Linked DNA regions of Homo sapiens. The main gene of each other region encodes a partner of the protein of the gene in region 4 in a complex. Each region holds a gene or a part of one and is shown on either strand. Other genes may lie near its edges.

Evidence for each region.
Region 1: NUP98 (region 4) and NUP153 share a complex: the UniProt entries of both Homo sapiens proteins name them as parts of the nuclear pore complex.
Region 2: NUP98 (region 4) and NUP214 share a complex: the UniProt entries of both Homo sapiens proteins name them as parts of the nuclear pore complex.
Region 3: NUP98 (region 4) and NUP188 share a complex: the UniProt entries of both Homo sapiens proteins name them as parts of the nuclear pore complex.

Annotation. Positions count from the first base shown.
Region 1 is NC_000006.12:17,625,110-17,632,446, reverse strand, and holds part of NUP153 (nuclear pore complex protein Nup153), read left to right. Parts: intron 1-2,907; coding exon 2,908-3,792; intron 3,793-6,282; coding exon 6,283-6,639; intron 6,640-7,337. UniProt on the Homo sapiens protein: Component of the nuclear pore complex (NPC), a complex required for the trafficking across the nuclear envelope. Functions as a scaffolding element in the nuclear phase of the NPC essential for normal nucleocytoplasmic transport of proteins and mRNAs.
Region 2 is NC_000009.12:131,224,703-131,232,039, reverse strand, and holds part of NUP214 (nuclear pore complex protein Nup214), read right to left. Parts: intron 3,881-7,337; coding exon 3,709-3,880; intron 1,411-3,708; coding exon 1,271-1,410; intron 1-1,270. UniProt on the Homo sapiens protein: Part of the nuclear pore complex. Has a critical role in nucleocytoplasmic transport.
Region 3 is NC_000009.12:128,995,862-129,003,198, forward strand, and holds part of NUP188 (nucleoporin NUP188), read left to right. Parts: intron 1-1,002; exon of another isoform or gene 1,003-2,289; coding exon 2,290-2,367; exon of another isoform or gene 2,368-2,676; coding exon 2,677-2,762; exon of another isoform or gene 2,763-2,827; intron 2,828-3,310; coding exon 3,311-3,456; intron 3,457-3,762; coding exon 3,763-3,944; intron 3,945-5,667; coding exon 5,668-5,868; intron 5,869-6,022; coding exon 6,023-6,115; intron 6,116-6,955; coding exon 6,956-7,114; intron 7,115-7,337. UniProt on the Homo sapiens protein: Component of the nuclear pore complex (NPC), a complex required for the trafficking across the nuclear envelope. Required for proper protein transport into the nucleus.
Region 4 is NC_000011.10:3,715,419-3,722,755, forward strand, and holds part of NUP98 (nuclear pore complex protein Nup98-Nup96 isoform 1 precursor), read right to left. Parts: intron 5,408-7,337; coding exon 5,294-5,407; intron 4,133-5,293; coding exon 3,994-4,132; intron 1-3,993. UniProt on the Homo sapiens protein: Plays a role in the nuclear pore complex (NPC) assembly and/or maintenance. NUP98 and NUP96 are involved in the bidirectional transport across the NPC. May anchor NUP153 and TPR to the NPC.

The DNA.
Region 1 (7,337 bases), on a different chromosome or scaffold from region 4:
ATCTTTTCTCCAGGTGGGAAAAAAAATTTCTTGTGTCATTGAGCCTCAGAGAGTTTTTGTTTTTTGTTTTTAACTGCTAGCCCCCTAGGTGAACTGTTCTTTGTTTTTTTGTTTGTTTGTTTTTTTGTTTGTTTGTTTGTTTGTTTTTGAGACAGTTTTGTTCTTTTGCCCAGGCTGGAGTACGGGGGCGCGATCTCTGCTCACTGCAATCTCCGCCTCCCAGGTTCAAGCAATTCCCTGCCTCAGCCTCCCAAGTAGCTGGGATTACAGGTGTGAGCCACCGCGCCCAGATGAACTTACTGACTTTTATTTGACTGGGAATACACCTCTAAATTAAAAGCGATACAGGCTGTGGCTTTGGTTTCCCAAAGTAGGTCCCAGGAAAAGAACTCTTAATATTTTACTATATAAGTACAAAGGAAGACTCCCTCAAAGTAATTAATCCTAAACTAACTGGAGGCCAGATTTTTGTGTTTTTTTTGAGATGGTGTCTTGCTCTGTCGCCCAGGCCGGAGTGCAGTGGCCGATCTCTGCTCACTGCAAGCTCCGCCTCCTGGGTTCATGCCATTCTCCTGCTTCAGCCTCCCGAGTAGCTGGGACTACAGGAACCTGCCACCACGCCTAGCTAATTTTTTGTGTTTTTAGTAGAGACGGGGGTTTCACCATGTTAGCCAGGATGGTCTCAATCTCCTGACTTCGTGATCCACCCGCCTCGGCCTCCCAAAGTGCTGGGATTACAGGCGTGAGCCAACACGCCTGGTCTGGAGGCCAGATTTTTCAAGTCTTCTGTAAAAGAGTAAGCCCGCAAGGAGAAAATGTGTGAGGATTAATGTCTTGAAACAACTCAGACAGATATTTCATCTTCTTACTTATAAGTTGTAGCTAAATAAAGTGTACTCAGTGGACAGAGTGTAGACCCCTAGAACGGTGAGAGGATGGGATGGGGGGTAGATGATGAGAAATTAATTAATGGGCACAATGTACATTATTTGGGTGATGAATATACTAAAAGCCCAAACTTCACTGCCAGGCAACATATCCATGTAACAAAATTGCACTGGTAATCCTTAAATTTATACAAATTAAACAAAAATAATAGCAAGCTTTATCTACTTTGTAATTAGCTTTCAAACTCTTGATTGCAAACCAAAAGTCAGGAATAAACCTTTTATATTGTGAGCCATCACCTGCACAGCGTATATGTCTATATGATTGAAATCTGTTTTGCAAAATAATACTTGCCTCTGGTAGGTGTAAGGTTCCCTGGTATTTTCTGTTTTATTTTATTTTAAAAGAGAAGTGCTGGTTGCAGCCTGCTAAATTAATTGATGATTAATGGTATACAACTAGCAGTTTGAAAAACACTGCATTTAAGTGTTTTAGAAGTTTGTGCTTTCTGGTTCATTTTATCTCTTTCTGTAGCTGTTAATTCATGCTCCCCTTTTTATACTGTTCTCTACCTGTAGTGTGGTAATCACCATACTTTTAAGTATCTTAGTACTTCTTAATGATCCTTGTTTTGAGCCAGTAGGTCAAGTACTTCATTTCTGATTTCCTTAGCTGCAGAAAAGCATTATGAAACCAAGACTTTGATCTTGTCAGTATAATGCTTGCTCTCTTCTCTTTTCTCTTCTCTCCTCTCTCTTCTCTCCTGTCTTCTCTCTTCTCTCCTCTCCCCTCTCCCCTCTCCCCTCCCTTCTCCCCTCCCCTCTCCCCTCTTGTCTCCCCTCCCCTCTCGTCTCCCGTCTCCTCTGCTCTCCTCTGTTTTCTTTTCTTTATTTATTTTGAAGTGGAGTCTCACTGTTGACCGGGCTGGAGTGCTGTGGCGCAATCTTGGCTCACTGCAACTTCTACCTCCCGGGCTCAAGCAATTCTCCTGCCTCAGCCTCTCAAGCAGCTGAGACTACAGGCACAGACCACCATGCCTGGCTGATTTTTTTTGTATTTTTAGTAGAGATGGGGTTTCGCCATGTTGGCCAGGCTGGTCTTGAACTCCTGACCTCGGGTGATCTGCCCGCCTTGGCCTCCCAAAGTGCTGGGATTCCAAGCGTGAGCTACCACGCCCAGTCTGATGTTTAACTTTATAAACATTGCTTCAACTCTGTAATTCTTCTGTTTTTCTGTTGCCTTCCTTTTTTAAATGCTTGAGTGAATAACACATTTATTCACAAGATTTAAAAATCAAGAAATTGTGACAAGGTTCAATCTCTTCTCTCCATTGTCTCTTTTTCCACCTTCCCTCCCACTTCCAAATGTAACTGTGGTTAGTTTCTTGTAAATCTTTCAAAGTTTCTTTATGCCCATCCAAGGCAAACATACATACCCCTATATATTCTTACTTCCTTTTACCTTGTTAGAAAAGTCTGTATACCGCACTCCCTTTCTGCCCCTTTGATTTTATCAGGGATTATCTTGGACACATCTTTGTTCTTCCTTCTTCGTTTATAGCTGCCTGGATTGCATATGGCATTTTGCATGTCTATGAGTTTATCTTTAAAACAAACTCCAGCTATAGAATTGCAAGGTCAAAGGGTATATGCATTTGTAATTTTCGGTAACTATTGACAGATTGCTCTCTATGAGTTTTGTGTTCATTTATACACCCACCTGCAATGTGTAGCCTGTTACTTCCAGTCTCATCACTAGTACAAACTTTATCAAACTTTATCGCAGCCAGTCTGATAAATGAAAAGTGGCTTGTCAGGATAGTTGTGAGGATTGAGATATCATTCTCATACCGACTAAATATAGGTCACCTTGGATTATGTTTACAGCTGCTGGTAATACTCTTCAAAGTAGGCCCTTTCAAAGTTACTCCTATGTTTCTTTGGCTTTCACAGTGTTTACATTTTGTTTGAGAGGATCAGTACATTGAGTGTCTATGTGGTGTCTTTTATATTTTTGTAGGCTTTGACACATCTTCCTCATCTTCGAACTCAGCAGCCTCCTCATCCTTCAAATTTGGTGTCTCATCATCCTCTTCTGGGCCTTCTCAGACTTTAACAAGCACTGGAAATTTTAAATTTGGAGATCAGGGAGGATTCAAAATAGGTGTGTCATCCGATTCTGGGTCTATAAACCCCATGAGTGAAGGCTTTAAATTTTCTAAACCAATAGGAGATTTTAAATTTGGAGTTTCATCTGAATCTAAGCCCGAAGAAGTTAAAAAAGATAGTAAGAATGATAATTTTAAGTTTGGACTTTCTTCTGGTTTAAGCAACCCAGTTTCTTTAACTCCATTTCAATTTGGGGTATCTAATCTTGGACAGGAAGAAAAGAAAGAGGAACTGCCCAAATCTTCCTCTGCAGGTTTTAGCTTTGGTACAGGTGTTATTAACTCCACCCCTGCTCCTGCTAACACCATAGTGACCTCTGAGAACAAGAGCAGCTTCAACCTTGGAACCATAGAAACCAAGAGTGCTTCAGTGGCTCCTTTCACATGTAAGACATCAGAAGCTAAAAAAGAAGAAATGCCTGCCACCAAAGGAGGATTCTCTTTTGGCAACGTGGAGCCTGCCTCTCTGCCATCTGCCTCAGTGTTTGTTTTGGGAAGGACAGAAGAGAAACAGCAAGAGCCTGTCACTTCTACTTCCCTAGTTTTTGGGAAGAAAGCTGACAATGAAGAGCCAAAGTGTCAACCAGTGTTTTCCTTTGGGAATTCAGAGCAAACCAAAGATGAGAATTCTTCAAAGTCCACATTTAGTTTTAGTATGACAAAACCATCTGAGAAGGAATCTGAACAGCCAGCAAAAGCCACTTTTGCCTTTGGAGCTCAAACTAGTACTACAGCTGGTAAGTATTAACTTTTTATTATTATTATTATTATTTTTTTTTTTACAAGTTGTCGTTTTACAAGTTGCCTTGACAGATGCAGCAAGTCAATTAATGGTTTACACTGAACATAGTTGAGAAATACAGAACTCTTTGGGAAGGAACCTAGGATTTTCAGTTTGAACTGCTCTTTAAAACCCTCATGATTCTGGTGAAGTCATCTGTGGATCTAATTTTGAGAAATACAGCAGTAATGCAAAGCTCAATATAGTGCATATTTATGTGTGTCTTTCTCTTCTGTTTGGGCTTTTATAATCAGAATTGGTATCTACTACCTGGAAAATAAGGATTCTTAGCTTATGAAGTATTTTCTACCATAATCTATGGGAAGGCCTTTATTTACAAATAGTTACAGATAACCAGTCCTCATCAAACATTAAGAAACATAGACAACAAATATAATTAATCCTGAGAAAACAAGAGATTTTGAAAGCTGAAGTCCTGGGGAAAAAAATGACATAGCACCTTAAAGGTTAAAAGCATGATTGTTGGTGGATCCTATTAAAGTCATTCTGTGAGCTGAATAGCAGGAAGAACTTCATAGCTGATAATCAGATTAGTGAACTAGAATTTCCCCAAACTTAGTGCACCAGTACAAAGAGTGATCCAAGTTAGATCCACAAGTTCCTTTGGGATAGGAGTGGCCTAGAAGATAAGAAGTTTTGGGGAAATATCAAAGAAGTGACAGAAGAAAATTTTCTAGATCTAAAGAAAGACATTGGTCTTAAAAATGGAAATTACCTATTGGCAAAGATCACTGAAATTTAGGACACCAAAGCTAAAACCCCAAATGCTTTCAGAGAGAAAAGCTATTTGCCACAAATAGGCAGGTATCAGATTAGCATCATCTTCTAATTTGTAACATCACATGCTAAAAACAACAGTGCCCTTAAAGTGAAAATGTTCTTGAACCTAGAATTCTGTTACTAGCCAAATGTGTTTAAATATAAAGACAATCCGGGTGCCGTAGCTCACACCTATAATCCCAACTAGTCGGGAGGCTGAAGCACAAGAATCTCTTGAACCTGGGAGGCGGAGGTGGCAGTGAGCAGAGATTGGCCCAGTGCACTCCAGCTTGGGCAACAGAACAAGGCTCTGTCTCAAGAAAACCCAACAACAACAAAAAAACACCAACACAAAGGCAAAATACAGATGTTTTTAGATGTGCAAAAAATGCAAAAGTTGAATATCCATGAATACTTTTGAATAATAAATTGGAAACACTCAAAATTAACCTTTAAAAAGTATGGAATTCAACAAATAGCTATGAGCAGTTTTTTGTCTGTTATATATTTACTTAGAAATATAAAGACAAAATCAAAACTAAAATTACATATTATTTGGAAAGCAACAAAAACATGATAGGGTCTAATCAGATTTGATGATGAAAACACCAGGCTATGGTAGACACTCTTAACCATTCTTCCATTAGCCAGGTTGAAAGTAAGCCAACATGTTCCATTTTCTGTAAGTCATACTAATGCCCATAGTGTACTGTGACCAGCCCTGGATAGTGTGCGGTATTGGAACTGAGAGATTATTGGAATAGTTTAGAAAAAAATCTTCAATAAGGTGGCTGGATTCAGAATCACCATATAAAAATCAAAAGTTTTTCTTCAAATCAGCATGTCTCATTTGTTTTTCCTAACATTTCTAACTTGTATTTTATAAAAGCAGCAGAACTTGTAACATGCCAAATAACTAAAAGAACACAAAAGGCATACTTGTTGCTGGGTGAAGGTATTCCCTTCCTCCTCCCATAATTTTAGTTCTTAGGGGAATTTTTGTAGAGCTTGACAAGCTAAACTTATTCTAAAATTCACATGGAAAGGAAACCACACAAGAAATTTTGGGAAGAAGGGCAGGCACACAGGCAGCTTTGTCCTACTAATATCAGTCCATGGTATAAAGTTATAATAATTAAAACAGTCTAGTGATAACAGTAGAGGAAACAAGTATATGCATTTTAGGAAATGTAGTGTGTGATAAAGACAGCATTGCAAATTAGTGCACAAAGGCTGTACTAGTTGATGCTGTGGAGAAACTTGGCTATCCATTTAGATAAATTGAAGTTATGATTTTGCCACATACTGTAATATAAATTGCAAAATAAAACATATAAAAGTACAGCTGTCTTCCACTATCTAAGCTTGCTATTCAACTACAGTATCCAGTTAGATTTGGATTCGAGGTGTATTTTTATTAACCTGAATGCCAAAGGCCTTCCTATGAAAGGCCTAAAATCCATAAGCTATAAAAGAAGATGAATGTATTTGACTTTGTCAAAATCTAATATAAACAGATGTCCATTTGATGAAGTAATCTATATAAAAAATCTATTTTCTAGCGAATTCTAGGGTAGGAAAATTCTAGCAATTGTAGGGTAGGAAAAAGTACTTTCTGAGACTATTCTTAAGGATTTATGTTTGTTTCTTAATTTCTGTCTTACAGATCAAGGTGCAGCAAAGCCAGTTTTTAGTTTCTTGAACAACAGTTCCTCTAGTTCAAGTACACCAGCCACTTCTGCTGGTGGTGGCATATTTGGTAGTTCCACCTCTTCCTCCAATCCACCTGTGGCTACCTTTGTGTTTGGACAGTCCAGCAATCCTGTGAGCAGCTCTGCCTTTGGTAACACTGCTGAATCCAGCACCTCTCAGTCTTTGCTATTTTCTCAAGATAGCAAACTAGCAACCACATCCAGCACAGGTACAGCTGTCACCCCATTTGTCTTTGGTCCAGGAGCCAGCAGTAATAATACTACCACCTCTGGTTTCGGCTTTGGAGCCACAACCACATCTAGCTCTGCAGGTACATTTACAAAAGAAAAAATGCATTGTAATTGGATGGACTTTACTTATTAGTGTGTCAGTTCTTAGCGAATATCATATAGCAGGTTATCACAAAATGGTGGGAATGCCTTTTGGTCATCTATACCAGGGTTGTTTTAATTATTCACTGTATGGAATAATGTACACTCTCTGTGTTCAACTTTAACATATTTACCTCTTGGGAGCAATTTTTCTAATTGTGGTAAGAGTGTAATACTTAATTTTTCTAAGCTTTGTTTTTTGTTTTTGTTTTCTTTCGAGACGGAGTCTTGCTCTGTCACCCAGGCTGGAGTGCAGTGGTGCAATCTCAGCTCACTGCAACCTGCCTCTCCCGAGTTCAAGCAATTCTCCTGCCTCAGCCTCCTGAGTAGCTGGGATTACAGGTGCCCGCCACCACACCCACCTAATTTTTGTATTTTTAGTAGAGATGGGGTTTTACCATGTTGGCCAGGCTCGAATTCCTGACCTCATGATTTGCCCGCCTCGGCCTTTCAAAGTGCTGAGATTACAGGTGTGAGCCACTGTGCCTGGCCCCAAGCTTTGTTTTTAAAATGTTAGGTTGTCAGTAACCAGACACTGGAAGTTGTTTTATTAAACATCAGTCTTTATTATGCAATGTATATATGCACATCATGAGGCAATTTCTGCACACATTAAATTTCTGGTGGGAGATTATTC
Region 2 (7,337 bases), on a different chromosome or scaffold from region 4:
ATTTTAGGGTTCTTCCTCCCTCCTCGGCCCCAGCTGTAGGCAGAGGGTCTCTGGCTTGGCCTCTCAGCTGTACTGGACCACATAGATCCATTCATTAGGAAAACCTTTTTTTTTTTTTTTTTTTTTTGCTGTTGTTGTTTTTCCATCCATTTGCTTCCTCTTCTTTTTGGGGGCCAGAGAAGCAAGATGGCTGGATTCTAGGCCTGGTTCTACTGCTAACTGCTAACACTTAGTTCCTTGGAGTTTCTGTTTCTTCACGGGTACAATTGTAATGATACCTAAATTCTGTGCCTTGTCAGTTTACTGCAAGAACAAAATGGAAGACACATATTCTGCCATCTGAAGAAGCAGAGTGTTAAACAAATGCAAGATGTTTTGTGAAGTTTCTATGCCTTTTTTTTTTTTTTTGAGTCTGCTGGCTTAGATTTTTTAAACCAAGGCCTAGTAAGACCATTATTATTTTGGGCTTCTCAAATCCTGAGAGGAAATCAAGACAGTAATTTCTTTGGTAAGAAATGACACAGTGTTCTAAGTCTAACTAAAACCTAAAAAAAAATATATATGCCAGGTGCTGTAATCCCAGCACTCTGGGAGGCCGAGGTGGGTGGATCATGAGGTCAGGAGATGGAGACCATCCTGGCTAACACAGTGAAACCCCATCTCTACTAAAAACACAAAAAATTAGCCGGGCCTGGTGGCGGGCGCCTGTAGACCCAGCTACTCAAAGGCTGAGGCAGGAGAATGGCGTGAACCCGGGAGGCGGAGTTTATAGTGAGCCGAGATTGTGCCACTGCACTCCATCCTGGGCAACAGAGCGAGACTCCGTCTCAAAAATATATATATATATATATGTTTCAACCACTTTCAGTATGTTACATATTTATTTATTTTGAGACAGGGTCTCATTCTGTCACCCAGGCTGGAGTGCAGTGGTGCAATCACAGCTCACTGCAGCGCTCAAGTGATCCTCCTGCTTCAGCCTCCCGAGTAGCTGGGACCACAGGTGTGTGCCACCATGTCTGGCGAATTTTAACATTTTTTGTAGAGAATGGAGTCTTGCCATGTTGCCCAGGCTAGTCTCAAACTCCTGGGCTCAAGTGATCCTCCTGCCTTGGTCTCCCAAAGTGCTGGGATTACAGGCGTGAACCACGTGCCCAGTCAGCTTTTAAAATACTAAACAGACTGGTCAGGTAAAACATACTCATTTCTTTGGGGGAGAAGGCAAGAGGGACCCATTTTGCTTGTGAGGGGAGAACTTGTGGCAGCTTACCTCCTGTGCCTGATCCAAAACCAGAGAATCCGCTACTCTGGGTCCCAAAACCAGAAGTCTGTTGGGACAGTGATCCGAAAGTGGGGGCATTCTGACTCGCGAGCGTGCCGAAGGATGTGGTGTTGCTGCTGCTCCCAAACCTGCGCTCCAGTGAGAAACAGACTGAGGTCAGTGGGGCCTCTCACCACTTGCCCATCTGCAAGCCTCAGCCCCCTGCTGTAAGTCCCAATACACACGACACTCATGATCCAGGGTGACAGGCTGGGCCTAACTAGCAGCCTTTCAGAGAGAATGAGCTATCGCCCAGGGCCAACTTTTATCTCTGCTCTAGGAAGAAAAATGGCAGGACTACAGTATGAAATCCAACCTGGCCAGTGTTTTAGTTTCCATCCCCCATTGGAACACCAGGGCATTTGGGAACTATGCAGTACACAGTTCCTGCTCTACCTCCAACAATCCTTAAGCTTTATTCTATCATTTTAGCATTTCTCACTTACCGACCATTCCCCCACATCCTGCTCCCATTTATTTATCTTCAGCTCCTCTTGGGATCTTGATTCTATTTACTTTTTCCAAGTCATTTCATTCAGGATTTTGTATTTGCTTCCTGAATCAATAATTACTACCCAAACCAATGTAAAAGTGGCCACTATTTTCCTTCCCCTGCTCGCCCCACCTGGAGACAATCCCCTGTGCCCCCTCACTCAGTTCTCCCTCCAGATATGGTCCAGCACACAAGGTGGCACTGTGTGACCTATCAGAGCCCCTTGAATTGTTTGCAGAGGAACTCGGCTGGGTTGGGGAGAGCTTCTGGGGTCTGGAGGTGACTAGGTGAGGGAAACGGATCAGTGGTTTCTGGGAGAAGGGGCAGCACCTGGGGGCAAGAATCAACCCCAAAGCAAGAAAAAGTATCTAAAACTCTGCCTTCCCACCATTCTATTCACTTTTAATGGTGAGGTCAAGGCTCTTTCCATACAAAGGTGGCCAAGGGATCTGCTCTCATTGGACTTTCTCCCAGGAGCGGCCTGCTCCCTTCCTCCTCCTGCCTTGGGCCTCATCAGCAACAGCCTGCCCTTCAGGGTCGGAGACAGGCTCATGGCCAGGGACCTGGAAGAAGGTAATGGGCTCTTATGGAGATTTAATAACTGACCTGGCATTAACCTTTTTTAGGACTGACTAACCAGCCAATCGGGATTTGTGTGAGAGCCGCCCCAAGGCAGAATATACTTTTCTACTAGTAAAGAAAACAGCTGGTTTCAAATAAATAAATCAATTCACAAGATACCCAGCCAACCCAAACCTTCTACCAACTCTGTGGTACTGTGTGCTGGTTCATCACTGCAGAGAACAGCATCCATTAAGACCTCTGAGAATACCAGCCTAAGTGGGTCTCTAACTGTCCTTTCAAAGCTTTCCTTAACTTTAATTCTTGGGGTTTCCTGAGGGCAAACCTAAGGCATCAGTCTCCCGTGAAACAGGAGAAGCAGCACGCCAACCCTCTCACTCCTGCTGCTGCGCTCCAGCATCTTGCACGGAGGGGAAGGGTGTGAGTAAGAACATACTATAGTTTATTTTCAAGATAAAGATGCTGTCATCTTGCCAAGACTCAGATCCAAGTATCTCAACAATTCCCCTAGACAAAATCATCTCCCCTCCCCCAAACCTTCAGCTCATGCTGAGCCCAGTACTGCGGCAAGAGGCGTTTTAGAACTCCTTTCAGGCATCGACACCTCCTTTGAACAAGAGACTTGGTAGTCATCCCGTGTACATTTTTTAAATTGGGATGTTGTGGTGTGGTGAAGGTTTTTTTCCCTTGGGGTTTTGGCAACCACACTGAAATTCTGCCCTTAAAAGCGACTCCCTAAAAATGGCCTTTTCCAGTGCAGACGCACACGAGGCAATGAGAGCAGCTTCGAAATCCCTGATCATCCAGGATCTTCCCACGGGAGGACCTGTGCAACTGAATACTCACTCTGGGGGGCTGCAGGGGAGCAGGGGACACAGGGAGTTGTTTGTTCAAGGACAACGGGTCTAACACAGAATAATCCCAAGAGGAAAGAATCTGGTGAAAACCATTCATTGAGGACTTCCTAACAGAAGCTCCACACCGGGGCACCTCTTGGCTACAAAGCAGTAGTTAAGGCAGGGCTGGTGCCTTCCTTTAGCCCCAGCAGGAGAACAGGGGCTCTGATGACCAGCATTTCTCATACCAGGGAACAGCAACACAGCTGAGGTCCACCATGAATTCAACAAAGCCTGGCTTGAACGAAATGAGTCTTACCCTGGAGAGGTACAGGAATCCTTGAGGGAGTTGTTCACAAATTTCAAGGGAGGGGCCTTCACCTCATGGTCAAATTTCTTTTCAGAGCAAGAGTACAGGCCCCTAGTGCTTTTTGGCTGGCGTGTGGGTTCCCAAGGGCCCTCCCCAGGGGGCTTACCCGAATCCTCCTGCGCTGGCAGCTGCAGTGCCCTCTCCGAACACTTTGCCTCCCGTCGAGCCCAGAGGGCTTGTAAAGGCTGGGGCTGAACCGAATGCTGGCACCCCTCCAAACCCAGGGGATCCCCCAAAAGTAGGAGGGCTGCCAAACACTGGAGCAGCACCGAAGCCACCTGAGCAAAACAGAGGCAAACAAACAGAAATAGGGAGAAAGAAAGGAGGAGACAGGAAGAGAAGACATTGAGCAATGAGAAACCAAATCAAAATAGGAAGAAAAAAGGGAAAAGAGGATGTTAGCAATTCAAATGCAAGAACTAGAGTAAAGGGCAACACCCCCCCTCCCCCCCGCCCTTCTATCAAGAAAATAGTAATGAAAACAACAAAACAAAAGCCCTCAAACCAAACCACTCCCCTCCATTCCTAGCAGAGGGCTCTGGGGTCCACTCAGGAGAGCTCCTGCAGACCCTGTGAAGTCACTGTGAAGCCGTGTGAGCAGACCTCCAAGAGCCCACTCGGTGCACCTTCCACCCCTCCCAGGTCCTCTGAGCTGTTTGGAGTGAAAAACCATTCTCAAAAACTCCAATCCCTACCTAGCTGACAAAAGATGACAGACTATATTACTTATCAGTACACAGGCAAGACATCCAGCTTCATAGAAACCCAAATTATAAAATCAGAGGCTCAAAACCTCCTCTCAGGGAGAATCCCTGAATTGGGTCATAGCAGAGACAGAGACGTGTATGCTGGCGCCCAGCCAGGTGCTTTTTATTTATTTACAGCCTGATGGCTCCTACGTCTCTCATCAGAGTCTCCCTTTCTCTCGCTCAGTGGAGGTTTGTTTTTTTTTTTTTAAATGCTTTTTTCCTGCAGTCTGGAATTACTTCCCAATGAAAAAACACACCAAATTTCTTCTTTGGAGGCAGGCTGCTGCATAAATCTAATAAAATAATAAGTCAACAGTGAGGACAGCCCTAGAGTTCAGATGCCTTCTGCAACGTTGCCAACACTGCTGCCCAGTGGGCTCAGGCTGCCAGAGGGCAGCACCACACAGGTGGCCACACAGACAAGGGTCAGGTCACGCACAGGGCACCCTACTCTGATTGCTGGTGATGCCTGTCAGGCAGGAAGACAAAACATCCTCTCCTGAGCTATTCCTGATGCGGGTTCCCAAACTTCCAAGATACTGCTGAAATCATTCTAAAGTATTAGAATAGACACTCAGTGAGTGTCTTCTTGAATGAATGGAATAGAATGGCATAAGAAATGTGCTCTAACTGGGAGCACCCTCTAAAGGGAGTACTTCTTAAGGTGAGTGTTGGCCTATGAACTGCGTGCTAGCGGGAGTAATGGTGGCCTAGCGACAAGCCTTTTCTCCCCTTTCAGAAAGTCAATCTGTTGTTAGAGGGATGAAATCCAGACTTCTTATTGTTTATGTAATCACAACACAAGCTTCTGCCATCTGAATCAGGAAAGATCAAATCCTGGGTATGAAAAGTTGTCAGCTGAATCCCTCAGTTAACTGTTATTTTGTGATTCACTCATGTGCCTATTTGCCATTAACAGTGGTAGGCTGCACAACTGAGAAGATACTTTTTTGCTAAGGCTCGTGTTTGGGTTAACATTCCGCATGTTAAAACACTGAGTGAAATTCCAAGCCATGATAATGGAGACTGTTGGGTTATAAATATAACAGACTGGAAAAAAAAAAGTGCTAAAAAACCCTTACAGTTGAATTATTTAAGACTGATCACAGATCTAGTTACACTTTCTTCCTAGACATGCAGGGCGCTATCTAGTACCTTGTATCAATATTGCTTAGACTTCTTGGTGGAAGGTGAGTGAAAAATGGGAAGTCATGATGATACAGAAAATAAACTGGACAGGGGAGGGGTGGCGGTTAAATATACACAGAGAGAAAAAGCCCCCAAACAACACACCTGGGTCACAGCCAAATTAAACAGGAAGAAAACAGTCACTCTGGCTTAAAGAGGCAACTCTCTCCTGATGGCAGGAGGGGTTTGATTTTATCAGTTGCCGTATTTTCATAAATTTCTTCTCCAGAAGAAACAAATTTTCTAATAATCAATGATGATAAACTTTCTGATTTATTGAGGGCCCACTATATGCCAGGTGCTTCACAGCAGTTTTCTTAAATCTTCCCAATAAGCCTGGGATCCTTACATCACAGGGGAGGAAACTGAGACTTAGAGAATATGCCACTTGTCCCAACTTCAGCCAGCTGATGGGTGCTAGAGCTGGGACTGGAACAAGGTCTGTGCGACTCAAACGCCCACCTCTCATCTTCCCCATCATTCATCCCCTGCCTGCCTCCCTCCAAATCTAACACTTTAGCGAGACAGCAGGGTGTAGACCACTGACCATGGTGGGCAGCAAGGCCATCTTCAGTCCATCCCACCTTCCTCCTGTCCTCTCCCCGGATGACCTCCAGCAGGATAATTTTATAATGCAATTTTACTGAAGGGAGGATAGATACTTTTGGAATTTTTCAAAGACCCATCCAAATCATCAACTTAAAATCTCTCTTAAAGCAAAAAGTGCCCTGATGCCTGGACAGGAAGGCAGTTCCTCTATTCACAGCAGCCCTTCCTTCTGCTCGGGACTTCCAGTCCCCTCTTTCAATAGAAAAAGCTCTCCCAGAACCAATACGAGTTCTGCAGCAGAGAGATGAAGTCCTGAAACATGAGGGGGAGTGGCCTTTCCCCTGCCCTCACTTTGATGTTTATGGTTACTAGTTCACTCATCTTATGTATCTGAAAGATAGTTGTTCTCTATTCGAGGCCTCAATCTAAGTATTAGTTTCATGGGGCAAATAAGTACTTACTATGAAAAGTTGGGGCATACATTTTCTCTAAGACTAGACAAATAAAAGGGTCAGATTTTCTTTCTTTTTTTTGAGACAGAGTCTTGCTTTGTTGCCCAGGATGAAGTGCAGTGGCATAATCTTGGCTCACTGCAATCTCTGCCTCCCAGGCTCAATTGATCCTCCCACCTCAGTCTCCCGAGGAGCTGGGACTACAGGTGTGCACCAACGTGCCTGGCTTATTTTTGCATTATTTTTTTTTGTAGAGACGGGTTTTTGCCATGTTATCCAGGCTGGTTTCAAACTCCTGGACTCAAGTGATCTGTCTTCCTTGGCCTCCCAAAGTGCTGGGATTACAGGCGTGAGCCACTGTACCCAGTGTCTGAATTAGGTGTGATTTTCCTTTTTTCTTTTAGAGATGGGGTCTCACTATGTTGCCCAGGTTGGTCTTGAACTTTTGGGCTCAAGTGATCCTCCCACCTCAGCCTCCCAAACTGCTGGGATTACAGGTGGAATTTTCAAAGGTCAGATTTCCAAATCAATGGGGATATAATCTCAGGATAAAGAACCATATATAGGAAAACCGTTAAGAGTCAAAGAAAACATTATCAGCCTCCTAAAAACATAAAAAGTCTTGATGATCGATGAACTAAAATTCCCCAGTTGAAATGTTCACGATGCACCTTTCTAACTGGGATAAAAGCCTTGTGGCCCTTTCATTTTTAAACAATGCACTGTGTGTGTAGCAAAAAGAAAGCTGTGAAGCCCATTTCAGAATATTCTGTTTTAATTTCTAGGAAAACAGTATT
Region 3 (7,337 bases), on a different chromosome or scaffold from region 4:
CTAGGTCAATAAATACTTGTTGACTAGTCAGCAGGGAGCTGTGACAGCTGCAGCAGCACCCTCTCTAAAAAGCAGTTTGTCATTGGTTCTAGAAACTGCATTTCCTGGTCTTAGAAAAAGAACAGAGGCCATTGTCTCTGTACTCTGTCTACTGGGAGTTGGTTTTGAGAGAGAGAGATAACATCTGGAAGAAATGCATTGTTCTTGGCTTTTTTGTGGTTTGACTCCGTCACGCTGTATCATAAGGACTTGGTATTGAAGTGTTCTTTCTTGGGGTATCCAGATTAATTTTTTTTTTTTTTTCTTGAGACGGAGTCTTGCTCCGTCACCCAGGCTGGAATGCAGTGGTGCGATCTTGGCTTACTGCAACCTCCGCCTTCCGGGTTCAAGGAATTCTCCTGTCTCAGCCTCCCAGGTAGCTGGGATTATAGGTGCCTGCCACCACGCCCAGCTAATTTTTGTATTTTTCGTAGAGATGGGGTTTCACCTTGTTGGTCAGGCTGGTCTCGAACTCCTGACCTCAGGTGATCCACCCACCTCGGCCTCCCAAAGTGCTGGGATTACAGGTGTGAGCCACCACGCTTGGCCCAGATTAATCTTTTGACTTCATGAACAACTTCAGCTTGATAGATGCCTCCTTTTTCCAAGCACCTCCTACATCTGTGAAATTTGTTGCCTAGTGCCAGACTGCCCACATGCTTGGAGCTTTGAGCCTAGGAGGGGCAGGTTTGTGGCTACTCTTGCTGTGGCATGGTGGTTTTGGACCCCTAAGGCTCCAAACACACTTAAAGGCTCACCTGTCTTTGAGAATGGTTGATTCCCCAGGGTATAACCTTTATGTCACCTGCCTTTTAGGCCCTAGTTAGGCAGCAGTTCTTGAATTGTAGCTCTGAAAATCCCACCATCCTCTTTCCCCAAAGGAAACCTATCTGGCTCTCTGTCTCACCTGTCTACCTATACAAAAGAAAAGAAAAAAAAAGAGAAAGAAACCTAAGTCCAGGATGTTGGTCACCCATTCATTCTCTTAATGGCATTAGTGGAACGCTTCCAGGCATTGAGATGCAGCAGTGAATAAGGCAGATAAGATCTTTGATCGCATAGAGAGTGCCCTATGATGGAGGAGGTAAATTATAAACAAATTTAGCAATAAAAAATATGGTTTCAGATAGTGATAATTTGCTGTGAAGGAAATAATTAAAGTGCTGTGGTAATGAACACATGAGATAGAAGTAGTCAGGGTGGCCTTCTCTGAGTGGTGATGTCCCAGCTGAGAGCTGAATGTGTGAAGAAGCCTTCCAGGTGGAGCCCGTGGAGGAGAGAAGTCTAGGCAGATGGACTTGCAAGTGCAAAGTTCCAGCAGTGGAAAAGAGCTTGATATGTTCATGAAAGAGGCAAGCAGGGTTGGACTAGAGTGAGCACAGATGGGACTGATACTACATCAGTTGGACCAGATCCTGTGGGGTCTTTGGACCATGTTGAAGAGCTTGGTTTGCGTTTCCCGGGCACTGGGAAGCCTTTCAAGGATTCTAAGCAGAGGGAGGACAGAGTCTCAAAGAGGAGGTGAACCTGGGCTTGATTCTGACCATATCTAAGGGTTGACAGAAGAACAGCAGGGCCTTCAAGCCCTATTTTACTTTATTTTTTAGGGAACAGGATCTCACTATGTTGATCAGGTTGGAGTGCAGTGGTGCAATCATGGCTCACTGCAGCCTCAACCTCCAGGGCTCACGTGATCTTCCCACCTCAGCCTCCCAAGTAACTAGGACTACAGGCATGCACCACCATACCCAGCTAATTAAACATTTTTTGTTGTTGTTGAGATAGGGTCTCATCATGTTGCCCAGACTATAAGCCCTATTTTATTTTATTTATTTATTTAAGACGGAGTCTCTCTCTGTCGCCAGGCTGGAGTGCAGTGGTGCGATCTCGGCTCACTGCAGCCTCCGCTTCCTGGGTTCAAGCAATTCTCCTGCCTCAGCCTCCCGAGTAGCTGGGACTACAGGTGCGCGCCACCATGCCTGGCTAATTTTTGTATTTTTAGTAGAGACAGGGTTCCACCGTGTTGGCCAGGATGGTCTTGATCTCCTGACCTCGTGATCCGCCCACCTCAGCCTCCCAAAGTGTTAGGATTACAGGCATGAGCCACCACGCCCGGCCTATATAAGCCCTATTTTAAATCAGGGAGACTGTTTTACCAATGACTAATTGCCTAGCAGAGGACCCCATGTTTCTTGGCCTCTAAAATCTGGAAAATTTTCCCAGCTGAAACCTTTTTCTGTTCCTTTGCAGGCAGATATAATGCACCTGACTGACTCTGTGGTGCGTCGCCAGCTCTTTCTTGACGTGCTTGATGGAACCAAAGCATTAGTAAGTGTGTCTGGGAGATTTTACATTTCTCCCAGGGAGGTTGTCTTTGAAGTCAAATAGCAGAGGTCATGAGTCTGCCAGCCAGCCGCACAAATAGTCAGGTCACAGGGCTCACGTTGGCCTGGGAGGCCTGAGACTGTAGTGGGTCAGCAGAGCTCTGCTGCTGCCATGCCAACCCTGGCTTCTCCCCCTCCACTCCACTCCTGTGAGCTCACTGCTGGGGAAGAAAGGCAATGAGGCCGGAGGTGCCCTGTGGATGGCATGCGAATCTTTCCACTGACTTCTGACTGGTGTGCTGTCTCCTTTCAGCTCCTAGTTCCAGCCTCAGTGAACTGCCTTCGCCTTGGCTCCATGAAGTGCACTCTGCTGCTTATCCTCCTCCGGCAGTGGAAGAGGTGAGGCTGTGCCAGGAGAGGCAAGCCCGAGGCCAGAGCCTTCTTGTCAGTGCCTGCTTGCCTTCCTGAAAGGGAGAAATAGTGGGTGGAAGCTGGGCTGGTTTTCCATCTTGAGGAATGGGAGTGACATAGCAGATAGGAGGGTGAGGCAGACTGGTGGATATCCTGAGATGGAGCAGGGGCAGTGTGTGGCCTTTTATGAGGTATTTTGTCTCACTCCCCACCCCGTATTCTTTTTTTTTTTTTTTTTTGAGACGGAGTCTCACTCTGTCGCCCAGGCTGGAGTGCAGTGGCGCGATCTCGGCTCACTGCAACCTCCACCTCCCAGGTTCAAGTGATTCTCGTGCCTCAACCTCCCTAGTAGCTGGGATTACGGGTGCGCGCTACCATGCCTAATTTTTGTATTTTTAGTAGAGACAGGGTTTCACCATGTTGGCCAGGCTGGTCTCGAACTCCTGACCTCAGGTGATCCACCCGCCTTGGCCTCCCAAAGTGCTAGGATTACAGGCATGAGCCACCACGCCTGGCCCACCCAGTATTCTTTCTAGAGAGTTAGGTTCTGTGGATGAAATCCTTGGACCCTTGACGGAGATCCTGGAGGGAGTGCTGCAGGCCGACCAGCAACTCATGGAGAAGACCAAGGCCAAGGTGTTCTCAGCATTCATCACAGTGTTGCAAATGAAGGAGATGAAAGGTGAGGGGCAGAGGCAGGGGGAGCAGCAGCTGCAGTCTGCCCACTCCTGCTGACAGCCAGGCAGGGCTTCCTTCAGCTTAGGGCCACACATTTCTTCTGGGACTTTTGAGTTTCCAGTCATGGAATTCTTACCCCAAGAAAGCTATTTTTTTCCCTCATGTGTCTCTCCCTCCTCTCCCACTGGACAGATGCTGTCCCTCCTAGCGCCCTAGTACATCTCCAGCCCCTTCCTAGGAAGGAAACCTTGGTGTACAGTGAGAGTTGGCCTGGTGAGCATGACAGTGTCCCTCCCTGTCTATTCTACAGTAAGTGACATCCCCCAGTACTCCCAGCTGGTGCTGAATGTCTGTGAGACCCTCCAAGAGGAAGTGATTGCACTCTTCGACCAGACCCGCCACAGTCTGGCATTAGGCAGTGCCACAGAGGACAAGGACAGCATGGAGACTGACGACTGTTCTCGGTCCCGGCACAGGGACCAGCGTGATGGGGTGAGACAGTGCCCTAGAAGGCCATCCGTCCTTTCCACTGCCCGCCAGCTCTGTGCCTGACTCTGGGGATAAGTAGTGATCAAGACAGATAGTCGCTGCACTTCTGGAGTTCACGGCCTGGTGGGAAAGGTTAATAGATCAGACACTGCAGAAAAGCAGAAGCAGCCCATTGTACTGCAGGAGAGAAGTGCAGGGAGAACTTAGTCTCACTTCTGACTTGAACTGGGACTTAGGTGCCTTTTCAGCAATGACTTAGAGATTGTAGCCGCGGGCAAATGCAGGATCCGAAGTGAAATAGGAAATGATGTAAGGCTTTTAAGCAGGGGAAAAAGTTGATCTGATTTTTACTCTAGAAAGATCACTCTGGACTTAAACTCCAGGCCTCAAGCCATCCTCCCAGTTCAGCCTTCCAAAGTGTTGGGATTACAGGCGTGCCCAAGAAAGATCACTCTGGATGCAGTATTGAATAGTATTTTTCAAATTGTGGGATCATGACCTATTAGAGAGAGTCTTGAAATTAGCACATTTTGTTACAACCAGTCTCGCTCTGTCGCCCAGGGTGGAGTGCAGTGGTGCGATCTTGGCTCACTGCAAGCTCTGCTTCCCAGATTCACGCCATTCTCCCACCTCAGCCACCCGAGTAGCTGGGGCTACAGGTGTCTGCCACCACGCCCGGCTAACTTTTTGTATTTTTCATAGAGACGGGGTTTCACTGTGTTAGCCAGGATGGCCTCGATCTCCTGACCTCGTAATCCGCCCGCCTTGATCTCCCAAAGTGCTGGGATTACAGGCGTGAGCCACCACGCCTGGCCACAACCAGCATTTTTTTAAAATAAAGTAGAATAAAGTGTTTAAGAAAATATCACTGTGCTTTGTGTGACATTAGGGTAGGTATTATTAGTGAAAAACTGTAAACGTGTACATGAGGATACAGTCTAAAAAGTCTTTATGGGCCGGGCACGGTGGCTAACGCCTGTAATCCCAGCACTTTGGGAGGCCGAGGCGGGCAGATCATGAGGTCAGGAGATGGAGACCATCCTGGCTAACACGGTGAAACCCTGTCTCTATGAAAAATACAAAAAATTAGCCGGGCGTGGTGGCGGGCACCTGTAGTCCCAGCTACTCGGGAGGCTGAGGCAGGAGGATGGCGTGAACCCAGGAGCGGAGGTTGCAGTGAGCCGAGATCGCGCCGCTGCACTCCAGCCTGGGGGACAGAGCGAGGCTCCATCTCAAAAAAAATGTCTTTATGACTCTGGGTCATGGCCAAAAAGAAGGTTGAAAGGCCACTGGTACAAGGATAGATTAGAGAGGATGGAGCAGGATTATTTAGGAGATGGTTGCAGTAGCAGAGCAGGAGGTGGCATCGGGCAGGGTCGTAGGGGTCCCTCAGACTCCATGTGGCAGAGTTGGTTGGAGTGTCCAACATGAGACGAGGTGGCTCTGACAAGGGTGGTGGCAGTGTGGGAGGTGGGAGGGAAGAGGCGGGGGTAGCTCTGGTCAGTTTAGGGTTGCTCATTAGATTGGCTGGAGTTGCTGCTGTTCATTGAGAGCTGGACATAGGAGAGGGGCAGGGTGGGAGAGAGTGTGCATTCTGTGTTACTCAAGCTCACTTAGCAATGTGTGTAACCAAGCAGGTCTTGGGCAACCAGGCCCACCGCTGCCTGTCGTCCTCTTCCTCCTCCTCTTCTTCTTCCCCCTTTTACTCATCTTTGCCTCTGGGCAGGTGTGTGTCCTGGGCCTGCACCTGGCCAAGGAGCTGTGTGAGGTAGACGAGGATGGTGACTCCTGGCTGCAGGTAACCCGCAGGCTCCCCATCCTACCCACCCTCCTCACCACTCTAGAGGTGAGCCTTCGCATGAAGCAGAACCTGCATTTCACTGAGGCCACATTGCATCTGCTCCTCACCCTGGCTCGCACTCAGCAGGTAGGAGGCCAGCCCGAAGGCAGGAGGGAGCGTCCTTGCTTGCCTGGGTGGGTTCTGACAATCCCAGAAGCTGTGATCTAGCCTGAGAGCCCTACCTACCCTAGGCAGGGCAGGGGCAGGCTCCATCTCATTTCCTGTCTTTCCCTCCTCCCAGGGAGCCACAGCAGTGGCTGGAGCTGGCATCACCCAGAGCATTTGTTTGCCCCTTCTGAGTGTGTACCAGCTGAGCACCAACGGCACAGCACAGGTGAGTGTCAGGAGCTTGCCAGGAGGCCCAGCCTGACCACCCTACAGTTCCAGTTGAAAAGTGTCCTCCCCTACCTTTCCCCGGAAGTTGCTTTCCTCTAAATTGCCTAATACACTGATGGTGAGGAATCTTCCCTGCCCCCAGGCGGATCTCTAGCAAGAGAAACTCACCACTAAAAGGCACCGCCTGGCCTTTGTGCACTACCTCTGGGAGATGGGATGGATTCTTCCCATTGCAGGTGTGAGGAAGACTAAACCAGATTGATAACACATCCCTGGACCAGGCCTCTAGCCAAGGCAGCTGTCCTCTCCTGTCATTCCCAAAGACAGTGTGTCATTGTGACTTCTCCACCCCTGCACCACCAGACCAGGACTGGGAGAAGGGAAGTGGGTGGTCTGGGGGCTTGATGGGGCCTCAGCACCCTGCCCTCTGTGTCCCTTGGTTATTTCTAGTTTAACAGATACCTCCTAATTTCAAAAGAGTAGTCTTCACCTGAACCTCTCTCTCTCATGAGAGTCGTGAAGTATTTGGTCATCTAGCCCAGCTACCCCTTAGAGGAAGTATGTAGGGGCCAGAGCAGGGCAGTGACATGTCCAGGTTCGCATAGCTCGTCAGTGGCAGACCTGAGTCTGGAACCCTGGGTCTTGTGTCTCAGCCTGGTGCTCTTTCCTTGAATCTGCTGGTGTTGGCCCCTTTCTGGCCCTGGTGGCCAGACAGTGGCTGTGTCTATTCTGGGAGATCTTTTCCTTTCAGCGCAGCTGGGCTGCCTTAGTTGCTGTACTACAAGGAGGTCCTGCCTCTCAGCAGGGTTCCTGAGCTTGTCTGCTGTTTGTATCTTAGACACCTAGTGCCTCTCGGAAGTCCCTGGATGCCCCCTCTTGGCCAGGAGTCTACCGCCTGTCCATGTCCCTGATGGAGCAGCTGCTCAAAACTCTGCGCTACAACTTCCTGCCTGAGGCCCTGGACTTCGTGGGTGTCCACCAGGAGCGGACCTTACAGGTGAGGGGCTGCCTGCATTGCAGGGGTGGGAGTTTCAGGGTAAAAAAGGTACTGGGCCATTCATGGGGCAGGTGGGTGTGGAGCCTGGGCCTCAGTAGCGGAGGGTTGTCGATGCCTTCATTTTTGAGATGCTCTAAGTACTCTGCTGGCTCACTGGCCAGCTAGTCTGCTGAAGGACGGGAACGGTCTCGGGTCAGAATCCTGGTTGTACCACTAAGCCATT
Region 4 (7,337 bases):
CACCACGCCCGGCCATTTTTTTTTTTTCTAGTAACCATCCTAATGGGTATGGTATCTCATTGTAGTTTGATTTGCATTTCTCTAATGATTAGTGATGTTGGGCATCTTTTCATGTACTCCTTGGTCATTTGTATATCTTTGGAGAAATGTCGATTCAAGTCCTTTGCCAATATTTTCTTCTTTTTTGAGAGACAGGGTCTCCCTCTCCCGCTCAGGCAGGAGAGAAGTGGCATGATCACAGCTCACTGTAACCTCTGTTCGAGACCAACCTGGCCAACATGGTGAAACTCCTGAGTTCAGCTGAACCTCCTGCCTCAGCCTCCTGAGCAGCTAGGACTACAGGTGTGTGCAACCATGCTTGACTACTTAAAATTTTTTTTTGTAGATACAGGGTCTTCCTATTTTCTTGAACTCCTGGCCTCAAGCAATCCTCACTTCTCTGCCTCCCAAAGTGCTGGGATTACAGGCATAAGCCACTGCACCCATCTTCTTTGCTCATTTTTTAAATGGGTTATTATTTTTGTTGTTGCTGTTGAATTGCAGGATTCTTTATATTCTGGCTATGAACCCCTTATCAAATATGATTGGCATATATTTTCTCCTATTCTTATAGGTTGCCTTTTCACTTGTCTTTTGCTGTGCAGAAGGTTTTCAGTTTGATATAGTGTCATTTGTCTATTTTTGCTTTTGGTGCTTATACTTTTTGATGTTATATCTGAGAAATCATTGCCAAAACCAATGTTATGAAGCTTTTCCTCTGTGTTTTCTTCTAAGAGTTGTAAATTTTTGGATCTCACACTTAGGTATTTTATCCATTTTGGGTTAATCTTTGTATATGGCATAACTTCACTCTTTTGTATGTGGATATCCAGTTTGCCAGCATCCTTTGTTGAAGAGACTGTCTTCTCCCGATCAAATAATTTTTTTTTTTTTTAGTTTTTTTTATGTGTGCTCCACACCACCCTGCCCCCGAGTAATTTTTATACCTTACTGAAAATCATTTAAGACTGGGCGTGGTGGTTTACACCTATAATCCCAACACTTTGGGAGGCCAAGGCAGGCCAAACACTTCACCTCAGGAGTTTGAGACCGGCTGGGCAGGCAACAAGGCAAAACCTCATCTCTACAAAAAATACAAAAATTAGCCGGGCGTGGTGGTGCATCTCTGTGGTCCCAGCTATTTAGGAGGCTGAGGCAGGAGAATAGCTTGAACCTGGGGGCAGAGGTTGCAGAGAGTCATGATCACACCACTACACTCAAGCCTGGGTGACACAGCAAGACCCTATCTCAAAAATCATTCGACTATATAGATGAAGTTTTATTTCTGGGCTCTCTATTACATTCCATTGGTATTTATGTCTGTATGCCACTACCATACTGTTTTGATTATTATAGATTTATAATAAGTTTTGAAATTTGGACATGTGAGACCTCCAAATTGTTCTTTTTTGAGAGTGTTTGGCTATTTGGAGATTTCTGAAATTCTATATGGATTTTTCTATTTCTACAAATCATGCCGCTGGGATTTTGATAGGGACTGCATTAAATTTATGCTTCACTGTAGGCAGTACTGACATTTTAACAATATTAAGTTTTTTTCTTTGACACGTGGTCTCGCTTTGTCACACAGGCTGGAGTGCAGTGGTGTAATCTGCAACCTCCGCCTCCCAGGTTCAAGCCATTCTCTAGCCTCAGCCTCCGGAGTAGCTGGGATTACAGGTATGCGCCACCACGTCTGGCGAATTTTTGTATTTTTAGTAGAGGTGGGGTTTCACCATGTTGGCCAGGCTCACTTGTCTCAACTCCTGACCTCAAGTGATCTGCCCGCCTAGGCCTCCCGAAGTGCTGGGATTACAGGCACGAGCCACTGCACCTAGCTGAACAATATGAAGTTTTCTAACTCATGAGTATGGTCTGTCTTCCATTTATCTGTGTCTGGTGTACTTTCTTTCAACCATGTTTTGCAGTTTTGTATAAACAAGTCATTTACCTCCCTGGTTAAGTTTATTTGTGTATATTTTATTCTTTTTGATGCTACTATATATATGAAATGTTTTCTTAATTTTTGTTGTTAGTGTATAGCAGTGCAACTGATTTTTCCATGTTGATTCTGTATCCTGTAACTTTGTTGAATTTGTTTATAACTAGTAAGTTTTTTTGTGTGGCATCTTTAGGGATTTCTACACAAGATGTCATCAAAGAACAGAGATAATTTTACTACTTTTCAAAACTGTATTAACTTTTATTTTTCTTGCCTAATTGCTCTGACCAGGACTTGCAGTAGTATATTTGGGAAAAGTGGCAAAAGCAGGCATCCTTGTGTTGCCTTGTCTCACAGGAAAAGCCTTCTGTATTTGAGTGCCTTTATTATGAAAGAGTGTTGGATTTTGGTAAATACTTTTTCTGTATTATGATGATGATGATGATGTGGTATATTCCTTTATCTTGTTAAAGTGGTATGTTTCACTGACTTTTGTATGTTAAGCCATCCATGCATTCCAGAATAAATCTTTTGGCCATGATGTGTAATCCTTTCAATACGCTGTTAAATTCTGCTTCCTAGGGCTCTGTTGATGACTTTTTCATCAATATACTCATCAAGTGGTCTGTAGTTTTCTTTCCTTGCAGTGTCTTTGGTTACTGAATAAGGTAACGCTTGCCTCATAGAATGAGTGTGAAAGTATTCCCTTCTCTTCAATTTTTTGGAAGAGTCTGAGTAGGACTGGTGTTATTTCTTTAAACGCTTAGTAGAATTCACCAATGAGGCCATCTGATTCTAGGTTTTTCTTTTTTGACAAGTTTGTGATTACTGAGTCAATCTCTTTACTAATTATTGGCCCGGCACAGTGGCTCATGCTTGTAATCCCAGCACTTTGGGAGGGCGAAGTGGGCAGATCACCTGAGGTCAGGAGTTCAAGACCAGCCTGGTCAACATGGCAAAACCCTGTCTCTACTAAAAATACAAAAATTAGCTGAGCATGGTGGCGGGCACCTATAATCCCAGCTACTCTGGAGGCTGAGGCAGGAGAATCGCTTGAACCCAGGGGGCAGAGGTTGCAGTAAGCTGAGACTATACCACTGCACTCCAGCTTGGGCAAAGGAGTGAAACTCTGTCTCAAAAGAAGAAAGAAAGAAAAGAAAGAAAGAAGAGAAAGGGAAAAGAAAAGAAGCGGAAGGGGAAAGGAAAGGAAAGGATCGATTGATCTGCTCAGATTTTCTATTTCTTCCTGATTCAGGGTTGGTAGGTTATGAAGATAAATAATTTTCACTACAGCCCTTTCACTTGACTAAGATATTAGAAGCTAGGATCTCACACTAAAATAGAGAGTTAAGTATAGCCACAGCAGAAACAGGAATAAAGCAAAATACTATTAAAAAGAGTTTTTGAAATTAGCAGTTGGACCCAATAAAATCAGGGAGGCTGGGCAGCGTGGCTCACACCTGTAATCCCAGCACTTTGGGAGGCTGAGGTGGGAGGATCACTTGAAATCAGGAGCTCAAGACCAGCCTGGCCAACATGGTGAAACTCTGTCTCTACTAAAAATACAAAAATTAGCCAGGCATGGTGGCGGGCGCCTACAATCCCAGCTACTTGGGAGGCTGAGGCAGGAGAATCGCTTGAACCCGGGAGTCGGAGGTTGCAGTGAACTGACATCATTCCACTGCGCTCCAGCCTGGGCAACAAGAGCAAAACTCCATCTCAAAAAAAAAAAATAATAATAGTAAAATGAAATGAAATGAAATAAAATAGAATAGAATCGAATCCAAGGAATGTAAAAAAATGAATTAAAAAATAAAATCAGGGAAAAGGAGTTCAAAATCACAGTATAGCATTTCTTTGCCATTTATACTTTTAAATCAAAGTAGAGACAATAAATGTACTCTATAGTAAGGAAAGCAAGCTACAGAAGCATACATCTAAACACATTTATGTTTACAGAAAAAAAAATTGTGATTTAGCTGATAATTTTCTGTATGTACATAAACTCTTACCTATTTAGCCCTTCACCCACAGGTGGTTTTTGGTTATCATCTAAGTAGACAACTACTTCTTTCCTCCGGATATGCACAATATCATCCAAATTTAGATTTGTCAAATTCACATCTCCTTCAAAATAGATTGAACCATAACCTATAAATCAGAGCAAATAGTTAAAAATTCATTCTGTATGAAGGCAAATACCTACTTTACAACTATAGTGATTAAACAATCACAAGGAGAAAGCAGTTTTAAGTATTAGTATTTTAAATAATTCAGCAATTCCTAGACTGGTAAGAATGGGGACTTAGGGAGAGTAACTTCAATTACACTGTTATCTGATTTAAAATCTGCATTTTTCTTTTCTTTTCTTTTCTTTTTTTTTTTGGCAAGGTCTTGTTCTGTTGACCAGACTGAAGTGCAGTGGTCCTGTCTCACTGCAGCCTGAACCTCCTAAACTGAAACAATCCTCCCACCTCACCCTCCCAAGTAGCTGAGACTACAAGCACATATCATCAGGCCTGGCTCATTTTCTTTACTTTTGGTAAAGGTGAGGTCTCACTATGTTGCCCAGGCTGGTCTAGAACTCCTGAGCTCAAGTGATCCTCTCACCTCAGCCTCCCAAAGCGCTAGAATTACAGGTGTGAGTCACTGCGACAGGCCTAACATCTGCATTTTTATAAAACTCCCATTAGCCTCAAAACAACCTTCTTAAATCTCTTCCCATTTATCTATAATGACGCTATATAAACAAACCTTCGCACTTGGCCTGGCATATGGGTTAAAATGCCTGAGCTCTTTTTAATACAATATAGCACAGTGGCATTTCCCACAAGAAAATTATCAGTAATAATAACATGAAGTTCATGCTAAGTGTTATACATCTCTTGCCTATTATTCAATTTTCTCAGAAGTTCTTGGTATTTCCAGTATTTTCTTTAATTACAGAAAATTAAAATGACCCAAATAGTTACTAGCACCAAACAGGTATACCTAAGCCCAAAGAATATTATATGGTTCTGTGCTTCTCAGGAGGCTGAGGCAGGAGAAATGCTTGACCCCAGGAGTTGAGATCTGCCAGGCAATGTAGCAAGACCCCATCTCAACAGAAAAAATAAAATAAATAAAAATAAAAAAATTTACATGGTTCCAGTCTTTCTTGTTTTGTTACTTATCAATCAAAGTATTTAAGATTCAGGCCAAGGTGGGCCCAAATGTAGGAAAATGAAGATTCAGCTATCAAAAGCTTCCCCTAATTACAAAAATAAGGTGCAACTCTCTGGCTTAATCACTAAGTGCTAAACTCACACTTACCTTTCCGACCAATAGTGAAATCAGAGACAATGCACTCTCCTTTTTCATTGGTAATTTTAGCAAGGTCATCCATAGATGGAATAGTATAGTAACCAACCTTAGTGAGAATAATACCTGTGACAAAAAAAAAAAAAAAAACAGAAAAAAAAATAACCTGAAATAATCAGCAACTAAATCATCATATAAAGAGAAAATATATCAGAATGAAGAATTTTCCAAACTACTTTTCTACCAAACATGATTCCTAGGAGAAGGGGTGTGTGAGTGTGTGTGTGTGTGTGTGTGTGTGTGTGTGTGAAAAGCTTCATGGTCAAATAGGTTTGAAGAACATACATATGATACATCAAAGAGTCTAAAACTTACAGTAAATAGCCTATTAAACTCTGCTTAACCTCGTGTTTTTCCAGATTTAACCACAGAACATTATTTTCAAAGGACACCCATTAACATCCCGGACTATAAAAGGTATCTCATAAAATACTCTGAGAAAAGCTTAATCAGCTTTTTATTTTATTTTACACACAAGGATACCAAAACCTACAGTGGAAATAACTTGTGTTGGCTTATACTGTAATTTAACAATAGAAGTAGATATAAAACTCCAAACCCAATTCTTCTTGTTTCATTGCCTGTTTTGCATAAACCTCTTTTATTTTTCAAATTTACACTCCCAAATAAAGAGCTAAAAGAAAGATGAAAAATCCAGCCAGGCAAGGTGGCTCATGCCTGTAATCCAAGGACTTTGGGAGGCCGGGGTGAGTAAATCACTTGAGGCCAGGAGTCCAAGACAAGCCTGGCTAACATGGCAAAAATCCATTATCTACCAAAAATACAAAAATTAGCTGGGCATGGTGGCGGGTGCTTGTAATCCCAGCTACTCGGGAGGTTGAGGAAGGAGAATCGCTTGAACCTGGGAGGCAGAGGATGCAGTGAGCTGAGATCACACCACTGCACTCCAGCCTGGGCAACCAAGAGTGAAACTCGGAAGGAAGGGAGGGAGGGAGGAAGGAAGAAAAGAAGAAAGAAAGAATAAATTAAAATAGAAAAAAAAATACCAAAATAAAAAAAGCAGAGCGCTGAAAAACTCAAGGAAAGTAGTGGAACGCTGGTGTGCTTGCTTGCTCTATTCACTCCTTGTCCTACTTGTAGTCAGATATAAGGCTAACTTGCTCTCTGAGAGAAAAGTATTTCAGGCCAACATCAGACCAAACTCCAGCCTCCAGCAACACCCACTTGTATACTTGCTTCTTGGGAAGGGAACTCTAAATTGGGTGGCAGCAAACAAGGTAAATGAAAAAACTAGAATATAAAACTTCCTATTAAAAAGATATATAGTAGCATAATAAATTCATGTAGAGATACATACACAAATACAGATTAAGCACCTGGAATTCTTTTTTTTTTTTTTTTTTTTTTTAGGAGACAGGATCTTGGTCTGTCAACCCAGGCTGGAGTTCAGTGGCATAATCATAGCTCACTGCAACCTTGAATCCTGGGTTCAAGTGATCCTCCCACCTCAGCTTCCGTAGTAGCTGCAACTACAGGTACATGCCACCACACCTGGCTAATTACTTTTAAGTTTATTGTAGATATCAGGTCTTGCTATGTTGCCCAGACTGATTTCAAACTTCTGGGTTCAAACGATCCTCCCACCTAAGCCTGCCAAAGTGCTGAGCCACCACACCCAGGCTACCTGGGATTCTTACTGTCAAAGTATAAACTTCTTTCCTTATGATACTAAGTAACCAAATATATATATATATATAATGGCAATAAGAAAACTAAATATAAATTTTGGAGACACTTCAAGAATACCACAAAACACCCAAAATGGGCTGGGCATGGTGGCTCATGCCTGTAATCCTAGCACTTTGGGAGGCCAAGATAGGAGGATCACTTGAGCCCAGGATTTTGAGACCAGCCCAGGAAACATGGCAAAACAAAAGATGCAAAACTTAACGGGGTGTGGTATCATGTGCCTGTAGTGCCAGCTACTCGGGTGGCTGAGATGAGAGGTCCTGATCCCTGGAGGTTGAGGTTGCAG